Regions from separate parts of the Homo sapiens genome. Here region 2 is linked to region 1. Evidence: fine-mapped expression QTL. A gene starts in region 1. The other region holds a variant in brackets. All regions are shown on one strand. Distances are between the middles of the regions. Region 1 holds the start of KLK8 (kallikrein related peptidase 8). Region 2 has its middle 12 kb from the start of PPIAP59.

Region 1 (2,904 bases):
GCGTACAGGGTGACTCTGGGGGCCCCCTGGTTTGCAATGGAACCTTGGCAGGCGTGGTGTCTGGGGGTGCTGAGCCCTGCTCCAGACCCCGGCGCCCCGCAGTCTACACCAGCGTATGCCACTACCTTGACTGGATCCAAGAAATCATGGAGAACTGAGCCCGCGCGCCACGGGGGCACCTTGGAAGACCAAGAGAGGCCGAAGGGCACGGGGTAGGGGGTTCTCGTAGGGTCCCAGCCTCAATGGTTCCCGCCCTGGACCTCCAGCTGCCCTGACTCCCCTCTGGACACTAAGACTCCGCCCCTGAGGCTCCGCCCCCTCACGAGGTCAAGCAAGACACAGTCGCGCCCCCTCGGAACGGAGCAGGGACACGCCCTTCAGAGCCCGTCTCTATGACGTCACCGACAGCCATCACCTCCTTCTTGGAACAGCACAGCCTGTGGCTCCGCCCCAAGGAACCACTTACACAAAATAGCTCCGCCCCTCGGAACTTTGCCCAGTGGGACTTCCCCTCGGGACTCCACCCCTTGTGGCCCCGCCTCCTTCACCAGAGATCTCGCCCCTCGTGATGTCAGGGGCGCAGTAGCTCCGCCCACGTGGAGCTCGGGCGGTGTAGAGCTCAGCCCCTTGTGGCCCCGTCCTGGGCGTGTGCTGGGTTTGAATCCTGGCGGAGACCTGGGGGGAAATTGAGGGAGGGTCTGGATACCTTTAGAGCCAATGCAACGGATGATTTTTCAGTAAACGCGGGAAACCTCACCTTCTTTCTGCCTGAGCTGTGAGATGAGTGGAGAGCAAACGGGTGGGCGGTGAAGGGCAGATGAGGGAACCGGTACCGCCTTGCAACTCCCCCTTAAACCCCTAGTAAGTTTTGCCTAAAGTCTCTGTCCATCAGCCCTATTGCAGCAAGACTCCTGGGTTCTGCTTGGGTTGGTCTTGCCGCCTCCAGGGGAAGGGGAAACCAGGTCACAGTGCCTCCCAAACCTGCCCTCCCAGATCCCGGACCTCTCAGGGGACAGCGGGCGGGGCCTGATCCACCCTCTGGTTTCTGACCCTAGAAGACCTGCCTTTCTTCGGTTCCCGGTTACTGGCAGCAGCCCCCTCCTCCCACAAAAGATCAGGTTCCAAGCTTCTCCTTTTAAAAGTACTTAGAATTCAGCCCCCAGCTCTCTCCTCCCTCACACCCAGGAATCCAGGCCCCTAGCCCCTCCTCCCTCAGACCCAGGAGTCCTGGCCCCTAGCAGCCCCCTCCTCCCTCAGACCCAGGAGTCTGGGCCCCCAGCCCCTCCTCGGTCAGACCTAAATCCCAGGTCCCAGTCCCTCCTCCCTTAGATTTAGGAGTCCAGGCCCCCAGCCTCTCCTCCCTCAGACCCAGGAATCCAGGCCCCCAGCCTCCTCCCCTCTCAGAACTAAAATCTTGGCCCCCAGCCCTTTATGTTTCAGATCGTAGAGTCTCAGCACCGAGTCCCTCCTCTCCCTAGCCTCAGGAGTCTGAGATTCCAGCCCCTCCTCCCTCAAGATTTCACGTTCAATCCCCTCCGCCCCTTCTCACTCACACCCAGTGTTCCAGTTCCCAGAAGCTCCCCAGGCTCTAGTGCAGGAGGAGAAGGAGGAGGAGCAGGAGGTGGAGATTCCCAGTTAAAAGGCTCCAGAATCGTGTACCAGGCAGAGAACTGAAGTACTGGGGCCTCCTCCACTGGGTCCGAATCAGTAGGTGACCCCGCCCCTGGATTCTGGAAGGTGAGGTGCAGAGGTACTCAGATACAGACATCAGGCCCCGGACCCTCCTTCTCCAGATTCCAGGACCCCAGCCTCAGATGCCCTTCTCTGTCGAGATCCAGCAGTCTGGACCCCGGCTTCCTCCTCTCCCTAATTTAGGAGTCCCAGCTCCCAGCTCCCTGTCCCCTCAGACCCAGACATCGAGGACTCCCCCCTCCCTTGGAATGTAGGAATCCAGTCCCCCAGCCTCCTCCTTCCTCCAGAGAAGCCCAGAACAGCCCCAGATACTCTCGGCTGCCTCCCCAGTGCCCAAATCCAGAACTGGGAGCTCAGGCTCCTCCTTCCTGTTTACCGGCCCCGCCCTCTCCATTTCCCAGACCTCACCATGGGACGCCCCCGACCTCGTGCGGCCAAGACGTGGATGTTCCTGCTCTTGCTGGGGGGAGCCTGGGCAGGTGAGGAGGGTTGCGGAGGCCTCCGGAGGGGAGGGATCTGAAGGCAGCAGTGGCGCTGGGGAGTCTGTGGGAATGCCGCGGGGGTTATGTGGGTGCGTGTGCACGGATGTGAAGAGTGCGATACGGTGCAGGAGCCTCTGTGGGCTTTCCTCAGGGTGGACAGAGGCAAGAAACAGGTAGCAGCAGGTAGGAGTAGGTTCCGTGATGCTGTAAATTGTCTGAATAGCTACAGCCTTTGGGGGCTGCTTGCTTGGGGGCATAGATTCACCTGGGAGTACTCGGGGCCTGTAGACTCATGTGGAAGCATGTGGGGGCATTCTTGGGTGTGTGACTCTTGTATGATGACACATGGACTGAAATGAGTGTCCCCGTGTGGCAGCGTGTGGAAGCCTGGACCTCCTCACTAAGTTGTATGCGGAGAACTTGCCGTGTGTCCATTTGAACCCACAGTGGCCTTCCCAGCCCTCGCACTGCCCCAGAGGGTGGCGATCCAACCCTCTCCCTCCTGCTGCAGGACACTCCAGGGCACAGGAGGACAAGGTGCTGGGGGGTCATGAGTGCCAACCCCATTCGCAGCCTTGGCAGGCGGCCTTGTTCCAGGGCCAGCAACTACTCTGTGGCGGTGTCCTTGTAGGTGGCAACTGGGTCCTTACAGCTGCCCACTGTAAAAAACCGTGAGTGGATGATGGGGGCAGAGGTCAGCTGGGGCTTAAGGAAAGAGGGGGCTGGGGTT
Region 2 (2,904 bases), 63 kb after region 1:
TCTTCACAGGGTGGCCGAAAGGAGAAGGGCAAACTGAAGGGGGAAAATTATAAAACCATCAGATCTTGTGAGAACTCACTACTATCACAAGAATAGCATGGGGGGACTGTCCCCATGATCTAATCACCTCCCATGAGATCCCACCCCCAACACGTGGGGATTATGATTCAAATTAAAATCCAAGATGAGATTTGGGTGGGGACACAGGGCCAGGCCATATCAGTTATCAAAAGAATATCCATTAATTTAAATTGGAAAATGTCAGGGCAGAAGCAGCTGCCTGTGGGATCTCTATCCCTTCTCCCCTAGGTATGTGTCTTTCACGGTCTCTTTCTTCTCATCCCACCTCTGTTTTCTCATTACATTGACTGCCTGTTGCCTATCAAAGCATCTCTTCTCTCCCCCATAACTGGCTCCAGTTACTGGGTTTTCTTTGTTCATAGCCCCTAGAGAAAAAATCTGGTTGGCTGTCCTAGGGTCAGATGCAGACTCTATCTCTAGTCTGAAAGGTGGGCCCACAGAGTGCAACATGGATCCCCCAGCCACCCCTTCATCCATAGCAGTGGGCAGGGCAGGGCCCCTAAGAAGGTTGTGGGCGTGGTAGTCATTGAAATGGACAACACATCAACACATGGACATTCTAGTCTTCAGCACTTTCTGAGTGACCTGTGTAAAGGTCATTTGTACTTTTTCTGGACCTCAGTTTCTCTACCTGTAAAATGGGAGGATTGAAACGTAATGATCTCCACGTGCCAATCCAGCTCTAAGATTTCTCAAGATACTCACAGGTGGTTATAGAAAGTCACTCCAGGGAATACTTTGGAAATTGAACACTCTAGAAAAGGAATTACACTAGAAAATTTTGTCAGTAACAAAATACCCAACTCAAAGTGGGTTAAGCAATAAGGACGTGTATTATTTCACATAATAAGAAGCCCCAAAAGAGGGAAGTACTGTGGTTTGGTGATTCCTACATTACATCATTAGGGACCCATCTTTCTTCTCTACTGCCCTCTGCATTCATTCATTCATATATTTATTCAACTCATGAGCACCTATGAGAGCCAAGTAATATTATAGACACTTGGGATAGACTGATTAATAAAACAGACACCAAACCCCTGCCTTCCTTAAGCTTATGTTCTAGCAGGAAGAAGAAAATATGTCAGCTTTCTCCTTTAGGCTTGTAATCTCGTGGCTGTAAAATGGCTGCCACAGCTCCAGACATCACATCCTCACGCACCATGACAAAAGGCAGGAAGGAGAGACTCTGTTGGCAGAGCTCTCTTCATTAGGAAAGAAAGTCTTTTCCAGAGTCCCCCCACACCCCTGGATCTGTTCTTGGGTCTCAATGACCACTCATTGGAGAAGGTCCCAATGCTGACACTCTAGCTTCAAGAGAAGCTGAGAAAGTGAGTTTCTGACATTTCTCTGTCACGGGTGCAGTCCTTACCAGCAAGGAAGAAGAGATAAGAAGTGTCTGCCTGATGAACAGTCAAAGGTGTGAGAGAAGGACACATACATCAAAATGATCCAATAATTGTCACCTTTATCTTCCCCTTTGTGCCTAGCCATTTACAAGTCCTCAC[G/A]ACTTTTTAGGGGACATTCCAGAAAGACTGGGCTGCCAGGGTGTGTGGTGTGGTGTGAAAATAGGGGCAAATAGTACTGGGTGACAGTTGTAATTCAATGTTTGTTTTTTGTTTTTGTTTTTCTTTAGACAGAGTCTCACTCTGTCACCCAGGCTGGAGTGCAGTAGCGTATTCTCGGCTCACTGCAACTTCCACCTCCCCAGTTCAAGCAATCCCCATGCCTCAGCCTCCTGAGTAGCTGGGACTATAGGTGTGAGCCACCATGCCTGGCTAATTTTTGTATTTTTAGTAGAGACAGGGTTTCGCTATGTTGGCCACACTGGTCTCGAACTCCTGACCTCAGGTGATCTGCCTACCTCAGCCTCCCAAAGTGCTGGGATTACAGGCGTGAGCCATCTGGCCTCAATTTTTTTTTTCTTAATCTTAAAAAAATCTAGATAGGAGCAGAATCCTAGCTAAGGGGCAGTCTTGAGCACATTTTCCAAAATGATGTTTCCGGTTAAGCTGCTTTGAGGAACAAGAGAAGATTCATGCTGGCTTCAATAGTAAATAAGTTTTAATTTCACATATCAAGAAATCCAGGTAAGGGCAGCTCCAGACACAGGGCGTCAGGCTGTGTTTCGCTTGGTTCTCCTCGGCGGGGGGTCATCATCCTTAAGATCAACACCCGTAGTGGGTCTGTCTTTGAGAAGGATGATGCTTTTCCAGAAACCACCCCAGCAGAATTTTATCTTATTCTTACTGGCCAGAATTGGGTCACATGTCCTTTCCTAAACCAGTCACAGACTGGTGGGGTGGGGTGGGGAGTGGGGTGGAGAGGTTAACATGGTTGATTTGAACCAAACAGGATTATTCTTTCACGATGGAGTGGAGGACCTCCCCTAAAGCATGTAGAAGCTGCTCCTTGAGAGAAATCAGGATTCCGACATCAAAGAACGGGAGGAACAACCAATGATGTCTGCCCCATAGATGCCCTTGCAGCAATATTTTAAATTAACTTTTATTGAAAGATAATGCACAGGGCCGGGCATGGTGGCTCACACCTGTAATCCCAGCACTTTGGGAGGCCGAGGCGGGTGGATTACCTGAGGTCAGGAGTTCGAAACCAGCATGGCCAATGTGGCGAAACCCTGTCTCTACTAAAAATACAAAAATTAGCCGGGCTCGGTGGTGGGCACCTGTAATCCCAGCTACTCGGGAGGCTGAGGCAAGAGAATCGCTTGAACCTGGGAGGTGGAGATTGCAGTGAGCCAAGATCACGCCATTGCACTCCAGCCTAGATGACAGAATGAGACTGTCTCAAGAAACAAAAAAA

What was found. PIP is the estimated chance that this variant, and not a neighbour inherited with it, causes the effect. A credible set is the group of variants that fine-mapping cannot tell apart.
Region 2: its variant is the best candidate, but not a certain one, in a credible set for the expression of KLK8 in tibial nerve (GTEx, PIP 0.77).

The regions. Positions count from the first base shown.
Region 1 is chr19:51,000,365-51,003,268 of GRCh38, reverse strand. KLK8 (kallikrein related peptidase 8) reads left to right here and starts at 1,665. Exons shown (of 6, transcript NM_007196.4): 1 at 1,665-1,737; 2 at 2,094-2,171; 3 at 2,686-2,845. The coding sequence starts at 2,102. KLK9 (kallikrein related peptidase 9) reads left to right here. Exons shown (of 5, transcript NM_012315.2): 5 at 9-761. The coding sequence ends at 158.
Region 2 is chr19:50,937,827-50,940,730 of GRCh38, reverse strand. No RefSeq gene overlaps it. Among named protein-coding and RNA genes, the nearest start is that of PPIAP59, 12 kb to the right of the region's middle. RefSeq lists a silencer at 1,530-1,693. The variant G/A (reference allele first, on the strand shown) is at 1,590.